2 separate regions of the Homo sapiens genome follow, and region 2 is linked to region 1. A link means that fine-mapping ties the variant in region 1 to the expression of a gene that starts in the linked region. Tissue or cell type: tibial nerve. Region 1 holds a variant in brackets; the other region holds the start of a gene. All regions are shown on one strand. Distances are between the middles of the regions.

What was found. PIP is the estimated chance that this variant, and not a neighbour inherited with it, causes the effect.
Region 2: it holds the start of RIN2, and the variant in region 1 is fine-mapped to the expression of RIN2 in tibial nerve (GTEx, PIP 0.98). The same link has a PIP of 0.9 or more in lung.

Annotation. Positions count from the first base shown.
Region 1 is chr20:20,000,694-20,005,839 of GRCh38, reverse strand. RIN2 (Ras and Rab interactor 2) reads right to left here. Exons shown (of 13, transcript NM_018993.4): 13 at 3,384-5,146. The coding sequence ends at 4,904. Among named protein-coding and RNA genes, the nearest start is that of NAA20, 14 kb to the left of the region's middle. The variant T/C (reference allele first, on the strand shown) is at 2,634.
Region 2 is chr20:19,755,799-19,760,944 of GRCh38, reverse strand. RIN2 (Ras and Rab interactor 2) reads right to left here and starts at 2,687. Exons shown (of 13, transcript NM_018993.4): 1 at 2,618-2,687. RefSeq lists an enhancer at 1,724-2,298.

The DNA of each region.
Region 1 (5,146 bases):
GCAGGTGTGTTTTTATATTAAAATCCAGATTTTGATCTAAACTAGTAGTTTTCACAGCAGAAGCACCTTGGAAGTTTAAAATAAATATGGCTGGCTGGGTCGCCTCTGCAGAGATTCTGATGGTCTGGGCAGCTGGGGCATTGGGAGTTTTAAAAGGCTCCGGGTGACTTCAAGCTGACAGCCAAAGCTGAGAGCCACCTATTCAAATGGAACAACGGACACTGGGTCTTGGTGACAGATAGTGTGGGCGGGTAATGTTTGCAGTGGGGCCGGGTTCACACTTTTTGAGTCTCTGGTTGGAACTGAAGAAACAAACTGTGAAAAGGATCAGAGCCTGCTTTTTGGCAAGGAGGCTTGGAATAGAGTTAAGAGCACCCTCAAACCTACTACGTGAGGGAAAACCCAGCCCACAGAATCATGGTGGGGAAATGGGAAGAAAGGGAAGCAATGGAGCTAATTATGTGTAGTGATATTTCCCCCAGGAAACCGAAGGCTGGTTACAGAGGTGAAGGCCGTCTAGGAGCTCCTCCCTGGCCACCCGTGGTCCTCAGGTTCTGAGCCCCTCTCCACAGGTGGCAGGATCTGACCACCCCCGTTCCCCAGCAGTGAGAAATGAGGGCTGGCTGTAGTAGTTCTAATGTGTGCACTCAAAGGAAATACTCAGATTCATTAATGTAATGATAGTCTAAGTGTCTTACATGCAGCCTCAGAGTTCAGGCAAATTTTACTTTTAAATGGGAGAATTTATAGCAGACTCGAGATAAGAAACTCTGCCCCCATCTCCACCCCCAACCACCTCACTCCAACTGAAGCTTCTCCAGGGAGACTTCTGAGGGGAGGCCTTGGTTACACTTTCTCAGAAATTTGGGAAGCTGAGGGGGGTAGATCCCTTGAGTTCAGGAGTTTGAGACTAGCCTGGGCAACATAGTGAGACCTCACCTCTACAAAAAATAAACACAAATTAGCTGGGCATGGTGGTGCACACCTGTAGTCCTAGCTAGTCAGGAGGCCGAGGTAGGAGGATTGTGCTTGAGCCCAGGAGGTTGAGGCTGCAGTGAGCCGAGATAGCACCACTGCATTTCATTTCAGCCTGAGTGACAGTCACACCTTGTCTCAAAAAAAAAAAAAAAAAAAAAAAGGTTACATGCCCAGACCTTTCAGAATAATTATATATATTTTTAACTTCCCATACCTACATTTCTTCCAAAGCTAGTATTCATGGGGGAAAGGTTTGTGCCAACTGCCACCATTTTTGATGTTGGAGTAAAATCGATCTTTTTCTAATCAGAACCTGTTTCTTGAGACAAATGCCAGATGTTTTCCTCCTCCCTCCCTCTCTGCCTTCTTTTTTTTTCTTTTTTTTCTTTTTGAGACTGAGTCTTGCTCTATTGCCCAGGCTAGAGTGCAGTGTCCTCATCTCAGCTCTCTGCAACCTCCGCCTCCTGGCTTCAAGGGATTCTCCTGCCTCAGCTTCCCGAGTAGCTGGGATTACAGGTGCCTGCCACCATGCCCGGCTAATTTTTGTATTTTTAGTAGAGATGGGGTTTCACATGTTGGCCAGGCTAGTCTTGAACTCCTGACCTCAAGTGATTCACCCACCTTGGCCTCCCAAAGTACTGGGATTACAGGCATGAGCCACCGCGCCTGGCCCCTCTCTGCCTTCTTTCCTTCCTTTCCTTATCACGTATTTAGGATTTTGCAATGTTAGGCGATTTCTTTCCCATATTTCCAACTGAATTAGAGTTAACCAAATGACAAAAAGTACTTTTGGTCTCAAATTCACCATCATGAAAATGGGCCGAAAAAATGAGGACACTTAGAATTTTACTATCAGATACTGCCAGATGATTAAAATGCCTGTGTTCCACACACACTGTGCCCTTCGGAGTCCTTCTTGTGCTGTTTCTGTTTCTCTGAGACTGCTGGTAGGAGACCAGGAGTGACTAGGTGTGACCAGGCATGACGGCATGAGCAGGCGTTAAAGATTGGAGCGCTGCCTCATTTCAAGTCTCTTAAAGAAGATGAAGGTAACAGCTGCCCAATGAGGACGGAACCGCATTTGTGAATGGAAGCATTCATAGCTGGGTTTCCTGTCCTTTGTATTTTCTTATAGATCTGAAGTTGTAACCTCCACATAATATGAACTACTTCAACAGTTTCTATTTCTATTCTGTGTCCCGGGGGTGTGGGGGTGGTACTAGAGTGAAAGTATTTGGCAGCGCATGCAACATAAAAAAAAAAAAAAATCCCTTCCTTTGGCCGGCGTTCAACTTTTATAACATGTTTTTATTTTTACTTTTTTGTAGGGGGAAGACAGGGTTGCTCTGTCGTCCAGGCTGCAACGCAGTGGCGGGATCATAGCTCCCCGCACCCTCAAACTCCTGGGATCAAGCGATCCTCCCACCTCAGCTATAATGTATTTTTAAATTTGGAAATGCGTTCTCCTCTTCCTCCACCCAGCATGTATATTTTTACTCTCCTCTTATTCCCTCCAACCTTCACCCAAGTCTGTTTCCTGGCAATTTGAGAAGTGAGAAATGCCTGCGTGGGGGAAAAAGTGGAGGCACATGTTGTGTTGTAATTTTAACGGGGAAACATTGCCCAATGACAAAACCAGGGACCGTCTTGTGATG[T/C]TGCTTTCTGCCCACGCTACCTTTTCCTCTTCTGAGCCCGCTCTCGTCCCACCGAAGGCTGCAAGGCTGCCTCGCATCCAGAGGCTGTGACCTGCTTTAAATCAACAAAGCATGATGATCTTAGTTTGAAGAGTTGGGAGGACAACCATATGGATTGAGCTGTCATCTTTTGGTCCGTTGTAAATATCAAAAGCAGGCAGCCCATTCAATTCTCATTCTGATCTTTACGGATCTCTCCCACTGATGAGTTAGAAACCCTTCTAAACTCATGTTTTCCTTCCTTCAGCCAGCAAGGATTTATTGAGCACTTACTATTAATATATGCCAGGCACCCTTCCAAGCATGGGGAGTATGGCAGCGAGGAGTCCAAGCCTCTGCGCTATCAATTTTGCAACAGCACTGAACTGTCACCCAGGGCATTGCAGAGGTTACGTGAGGACAGGGTGGGGCTGTCTGCAGGACCCCAGCTAACTCCGGGTTCAAATTACCTGTGATTTGCTCTAAGTCCCACTGAGCCAAGTACAGCACTAGATAACAATGAAAACACTTTCAGGTGGGAGGATGATCTTTTCCTTCTGCTCCTTAACTTTTGCCCCATATCAGGAGGAGCTTCTGAGAAATGTGAGCTTTTCTGCTCACCCCCACGATACATTGTCTAACCACAAACCCTGGTTCGGATTTCATCTGTCCATGACACTGCGTGGTGCATGAATATATTCTTACTCTAAAGAAAAAAAAAAACAGCCAAAGGATATTTCAAAAATTATTTTCACACATGATTATCATACAGTATTACAATGTATTATGTGCAAAATTCCATTTAAAAAATCATTTACAAAAGTACAACACAGTATGTGCTGAGGGTTCTAGTTCAACAAAAGCCAAGGCTAAAAAAGGTACAAGGTACAAAGCCAACCAAATGAGATGACTATGCATCTTTACACAGTACAATAACATGTTTTTGTAACTACCTGTGTTACGTGGATACAAGACCCTCATAGTTTGTGCACCTGCAAACTGGTTTTATTTAACATAAGTTTAATTTCACTGCAGGTTCTGATAATGTAGATTGATTTTTTTGTGCATTTTCAAATTCTTCTCCATTATATAGCATCTTATTTAACTCAACAAAAGCCACATTATACATTACTTGGTTTCTGGTCCCAATAATTTGATGCTGTTAAGTTTTAATTTGTATGGAAAAGGGAGAAAAGTGTTCTTCTTGATTTTTATTTTCCTCAAGGGGCTTTCAAAATTGTTTCTACAAGCAAATCACACATGGAATAGATTTTGCCAAACCTCACTGCATATTTACAGTATTTTAAGCATAGGTGGTTCCTTCTATCTCTTTTTCTACATCTTTTGAAGAGCCTGAACCAGCAGACTGCACTCCTCAGTCCTTTGTTAGAGTTCATATTTCTCTCTCTACCTCTCTCTACATTCATTTCTCTCCTTATTCTCAGCATCATTTGTTTAAAAAACAAAACAGCAAAACACCACTAAACGTGAACAAGAGAACAGTACATCCGATTTCCAAAGGCATTCTGTGGCCAGTGTCAGGAATACGTTGCTTTAAGAAATCCAGCAGTCTCTCCCCACAAAGTTGCCAAAACATCCAGTTACAGAAGAGAGACTTTAAAAATGCAATACTCTCAAATCCAGCAAGAGATTTATTTTTGAATATTAAATGTTAAAATCACATGCATAATTATAGAATATTTTAAAGTTACAAAAATATTTTAAAACCAATCCTGACAGTTTACCTGCAACTGCTATAAAAATTTCTATGAAATATATAAAAACATGAAGGCTCTTTGTAAAAAAAAAAAAAAAAAAAAAAAAAAGGAAAAAGAAAGGAAGGAAGGCAGGGATGAAGCCATCCACAGGAGTGAGAATCACCTGACGCACTGCATCGCAAGCATCTGCTGTTGAATTCAAAAGAACTTGTATCTTAAGTGTTTCTTCTGCACATATACATACCTGTAAGCCAACCTAGAACCTGACTGGGGGTAGGTAGCAAACAATCTCAGGACACTTGAACCATCAGATGCAATTCTCCATTGCCAAAAGAGAATCCTACTGTTTCACAAACCTCAGCTACCTTGCGTGGCTAAAGTTGCCCTTGGCCGAGTTGGCCTGTGGATGGCTTAGTCACTACACTGAGGGGTCCCCGAGGAGGTGACTGCTTTTCAAGCTCAAGCATGTAGAAGCGGGAAGGCAAGGCTTCCAGCTCCCCTTTGGATGCACCACTGGGAAGTCCCGCCTGTCTTCTAGGAGGTGGTGAGGTCTTCTTCCCCGTTCTGGAAAATGATGCCATAAGGATCGTTCTTGATGCGTTTGTAGACAAAGTGGAAGATGTGGGGCTGTGGTCGGCTGTGCAGCTCCGCCTTGATTTTTTGAGGGTAAGTGTCCTCTGCCAGCTGCTGCCATGTCTCGTCAACGAAGAGAAAGAGGCTGTACTCCTCAGGGTCCCCCACCTTGAACTTCTCAGCGCAGATCTGACACACATCCTC
Region 2 (5,146 bases), 240 kb after region 1:
CAGACAGTGGGCAAGTGAGGTCCACTGTATTGCTTTAAGAGATACATACACATACACACACACAAGGAATTCTGGTGGCAGTGAGGGGGTGTCTTACTGGGGAAAGGAGGACAGGGTCGGGGAAATCTTTCTTGCTGAAACTATTAGGATTCTTGAAGGTTCATTAGGTAGGTTGGATATACAAGGGGAATTGGGCACAAGGTCAAAGCACTATAATACAGAGAGTATGTGAAGAATGGGCCTCCCATTAATGGGTCACACGAGCATGGACCTCTCAGGGTAGCATACCCTGTGTTTCATCTGTGATACCTGATTCATCTGTGTCCTCCAAGCAGAGGAAGAGGGTTTAGCTAAGCAAGGAGGTTCTTTCTGGAAAGTGGAAGTCCTGAAGTGGGTAGTGACCCTTGACTTTGGATAAGGTGTATGGCAGGACACCTTGGGTGGGGATAAGAGTGCTGCTGCGAAGTTATCTTTAAATAAGCACACGCCATAGCCATCCTGGGAGTCAAGCTCCCTCCCACCTGCCCTACACTAGAGGTCAAGTGTGGGCTATTTCAGTTTCCTCCTCTGCTCTGATGAACTGTCTGCAGGAGAATGTTTCCAGACAAAGGTCTTGATAGCAGGTTGGTTTTCCCCGTGTCTCCAGCCTCCAACTACTGAGAGCAAGTCTCCAAACCCAAAAGCTCCTGTCAACAGCCTTCTTCCCAAGTTCCAAAAGCAAGGGCCCTTCACTGTCCCGGGACCCTACCCATCCCTAGCCTGTGATGCTCTCTCTGGAGGTGCCAAAGCACGGGAGTGCATGAGTATTCCAGAGGCAATATTGGAACCTGAGGCAAAAAGGAAAATTAGCACCTCTATATCCACTTATGACAATATCCTCCTACATTTGAATTAGGTAAAAAGTTAATAAAAGCTCTGCATTCAGTGAACGTGACTACATCTGAAGCCAGAGTTGCTCAATCTGTTGCATGCCACTGTCAACTCTCAAACCACCAGGCAAGGGAACAAACAAATGGGGAGGTGGGGGAGGGAGACTGGATATGACTGTTCCCATTGAACAATGAAGCAGGGTTCTTTTTTTTTAGACAGAGTTTCACTCTGTCACCCAGGCTGAGTGGAGTGGCACAATGTCGGCTTACTGCAACCTCTGCCCCCAGGTTCAAGTGATTCTCCCACCTCAGCCTCCCGAGTAGCTGGGACCACAGGCACATGCCTTCAGGCCCAGCTAATTTTTGTATTTTTAGTAGAGATGGGGTTTCACCCTGTTGGCCAGGCTGGTCTTGAACTCCTGACCTCAAGTGATCTGCCTGCCTTGGCCTCCCTAAGTGCTGGGATTACAGGCATAAGCCACTGCACCCGGCCTATGAAGCAGGGTTCTAACAACACCCACCTGTATTTAAAATGTTGATTTTTGCTTATCATGAATTTTTTACATTCAATTTGGTTTTGTTAAAAAGATTGTATTAAAATACTATTTATCTTAATGATGGAGTGCTGCCCTGTGTGTTTCTTTTTTCCCAGTAAGCCCTTTGCACTCCCAGCAAGTGTTTCTTTTTGCTTCAGTATTTACAGTCCTTTTGGTCGAAGAGTACTCTGATGTTTCCTTACCGATGACAGCGTGTTCCTAAGAAACCCCAATGTGCCCAAAACCGCGCAAGGAAGTGCCGCTACACTGCGGAATTAGGAAAGCCCCAGGGATTTAAGAGCTCTGAGAAGACAGGCGCCTCTCAGGGCCCAGGGGACCGATCTTGCCCTGTATTTCTTGGCAACATATCATAGGCTTTCAAGCTGAACTTCTGCAAATCCTGCTGTCCCCGCGCGGTCGAGGGGCGCGCCACCGCCGGTGGGTGGACGCCGAGCTGGTGGGAGCCCAGGCCAAGGGTGGAGGCCAAGCCCAGAAGGGGGCGGGGAGGCCTCAAAGTGGGAAAGTGGCCCCGTCCCTTCCCGGCAGGAATCCGGGGCTCCTCCTCCGCCCGCTGCGCAGCCATCAATCACCGCGACAGCCCAAGTGCCCCCTGCCCGGACACAACAACCCTCCTGCTTTTCCACCCGGGGGAGGAAATCTCCGGTCGGAGCATCTGCCCTGCACACTGGCTGGACTCACCAGTGGGGTCCGCGCTGGGGATCAAAGCTGTGCGACACCGGGTCTGACCCGCGCGCTCAGGCGCAGGGAGCACTTGACACCCCACAGGCAGCCCTGCAGGTAGAACTCCTCAAAGGTCCCTACCAAACTCCGTCCGGTGCACACGCACGCACACCCGCACCTCCGCACCTCGAGCCATAGTGCCTGCACCCTCCAGCTGTCCCTCACCCCAGCCCCGCACAGGTCAGCTGAGGACACCCGGTGACCCTGCCGGGACCAGCGGCCACCTCGCGCTCCGGAATGTCACTCTGCCCCTTGTCCCCACTCCCTGATCCCCCTTCCCCCTTCCGTTCCCCACGATCCCCGAGGACGCGCTCTGGCTGTCTTCCTCAAGTCCCCTCCGGAGTAGGGAGAGAGTGCGCACAGCAGCACCCACGTCTGGAACCCCAGAGAGCCCCGCCCGTGCCCGGAGCCTCTCCGGGCTCTCTAGGTGCGGGCACAGGGGGTGGGGTCTCCGCTGCCACCGCCCCTTACCTCTCGCGGGCCCTCCCCGCAGGTCCCGGAGGCGGGGGCGACCGGTGGCCCCAAAGACGAGCGCGGGGCTGGGTTTCCCCGCCCGGGAGGAGCAAGAGGAGGAGGAGGAAGAGGAGGAAGGGGGAGAAAGGAGGGGAGGGGAGGGGAGAGGAGAGGAAAGAGGAGGAGGGGAGGGAAGGGCTTTGTGTTTGCCTCGGGCCGTCCCTCGGCAGTAGGGAGCCATCCCCCTCCCCCAGCCACCTTCCTGAGCTCGCAGAGGAGATGGGGCGGGGGTGATCGGATCGGAGGCAGCGACCAAGGCGCCTGCGCGACCCCAGGTCCGGCCCATCCCTCCATTCCCTGTAACCGCCAGCCTCCGCCCCTCTTGACAACCACCCGCTACGCTTACCCTGTTACAAGGAACCCAGGCTGCAACCAGGAAAAACTGCCATCAGAAAGTTTATCTAAGCCGGAGCAAACTTGGCTGGACCGGCCCCTGACCCGCCTTGGCGCTGCCGCCCCTGTCTTCTGCGGTCCCCGGCCAGGCGAGGACCAGAGTTTTGTTCTCGGAGATTCTTGCCTTTCTTGTTTTAGCACAAACGCGCACGCACCCCTTTCCCATAACGAGCCCCTCCGCCCAACTACAGATCCCGGGATCTGTTGCAGGGGCTGGAAAGGCCCCACTCGAGAGGCCTGAGCTGGCTGCGGCTCTTGGTTCCGGGGCAGGTTCTCCAGGGTTGGATACGCTCTGGACGCCTGGGCGGGTTGTTTTGCTTCGGCCTCGCTGGCCAGGGGCCCGCCCACCCCGCCTGGAACGCGGTTTGGATCGGCGCTGGGAGCCCTCCGTAACCCCAGCTGAAGGCCGCGCAGGCAGGCGGGGACGCCGGAGCTGCGGGGCCGGTTCCCAGCCAGCATCCAGCCTTTTCGGAATCAGGCGGGTCCCTGGTGATTCGCTGGGTTTTCCCACTTCCCACGGGGACCTCACCTTTGGGAATTAATTGCTGACAGTGTTAGAGTTACAAAGTAGCCAGTGTCACGGAGGGAACCTCAAAGAGACAAAGGGACACCTCGAAGGTGTCAGAGAGACGGTTGTTTTGGACAGAAACAGAACAGCGAAGCGGAAAGAAAACAGACCTTATTTCTGTTCTGTTCCACTTCAGATAGTAGCAGAGGAGACTTGGATTTCATTGGTGTTGGTTTTCGTGATTCCTGCCTTCTAAAATCCCAAGACTTATTTATCATTTATCATCAGCTCAGATCCCAGGAAAACAGTCCACTGCACTTCGGTTTCTGCTCCAAGTCACCCATTAAATAAATAATTGAACACCTGCTGGTGCCAGGCGCAGTTCTAATGCTTGGGATATGTCGGTGAACAAAGCAAAGGTCTCCCTCACCTGGGGGAGCTGAAGGCCTGCGGGGAAGAAGTGGGAGACAGAGGGTAAACCATGGCCATCCCTAAGTAAATTATTTGGGGTGTTGGAAGAGGTCGGTGATAGGGAAAACAAGAAAAAGAATATGGGGGCCCAGAGTGCTTGTGTCTGGAGCAGGTCACAGAATTAAATAGATGGTGTGTGTCAGGCCTCTGAGCCCAAGCCAAGCCATCGCATCCCCTGTGACTTGCACGTATACATCCAGATGGTCTGAAGTAACTGAAGATCCACAAAAGAAGTAAACATAGCCTTAACTGATGACATTCCACCATTGTGATTTGTTCCCGCCCCACCCTAACTAATCAATGTACTTTGTAATCTCCCCCACCCTTAAGAAGGTTCTTTGTAATTCTCCCCACCCTTGAGAATGTACTTTGTGAGATCCACCCCTGCCCACAAAACATTGCTCTTAACTTCACCGCCTATCTCAAAACCTATAAGAACTAATAATAATCCACCACTCTTTGCTGACTCTCTGTTTGGACTCAGCCCACCTGCACCCAGGTGAAATAAACAGCCATGTTGCTCACACAAAGCCTGTTTGGTGGTCTCTTCACACGGACGCGCATGAAATTTGGTGTCGTGACTCAGATTGGGGGACCTCCCTTGGGAGATCAATCCCCTGTCCTCCTGCTCTTTGCTCTGTGAGAAAGATCCACCTACGACCTCAGGACCGACCAGCCCAAGAAACATCTCACCAATTTCAAATCCAGTAAGCGGCCTCTTTTTACTCTCTTCTCCAACTTGCCTCACTATCCCTCAACCTCTTTCTCCTTTCAATCTTGGCGCTACACTTCAATCTCTCCCTTCTCTTAATTTCAATTCCTTTCATTTTCTGGTAGAGACAAAAGAGACACGTTTTATCCGTGGACCCAAAACTCCGGCGCCGGTCACGGACTGGGAAGGCAGCCTTCCCTTGGTGTTTAATCATTGCAGGGATGCCTCTGTGATTATACACCCACGTTTCAAGGGTGTCAGACCACGCAGGGACGCCTGCCTTGGTCCTTCACCCTTAGCGGCAAGTCCTGCTTTTCTGGGGAAGGGGCAAGTACCCCAACCCCTTCTCTCCTTGTCTCTACCCCTTCTCTGCCTTTCCTGGGGCAGGGGCAAGTACCCCTCA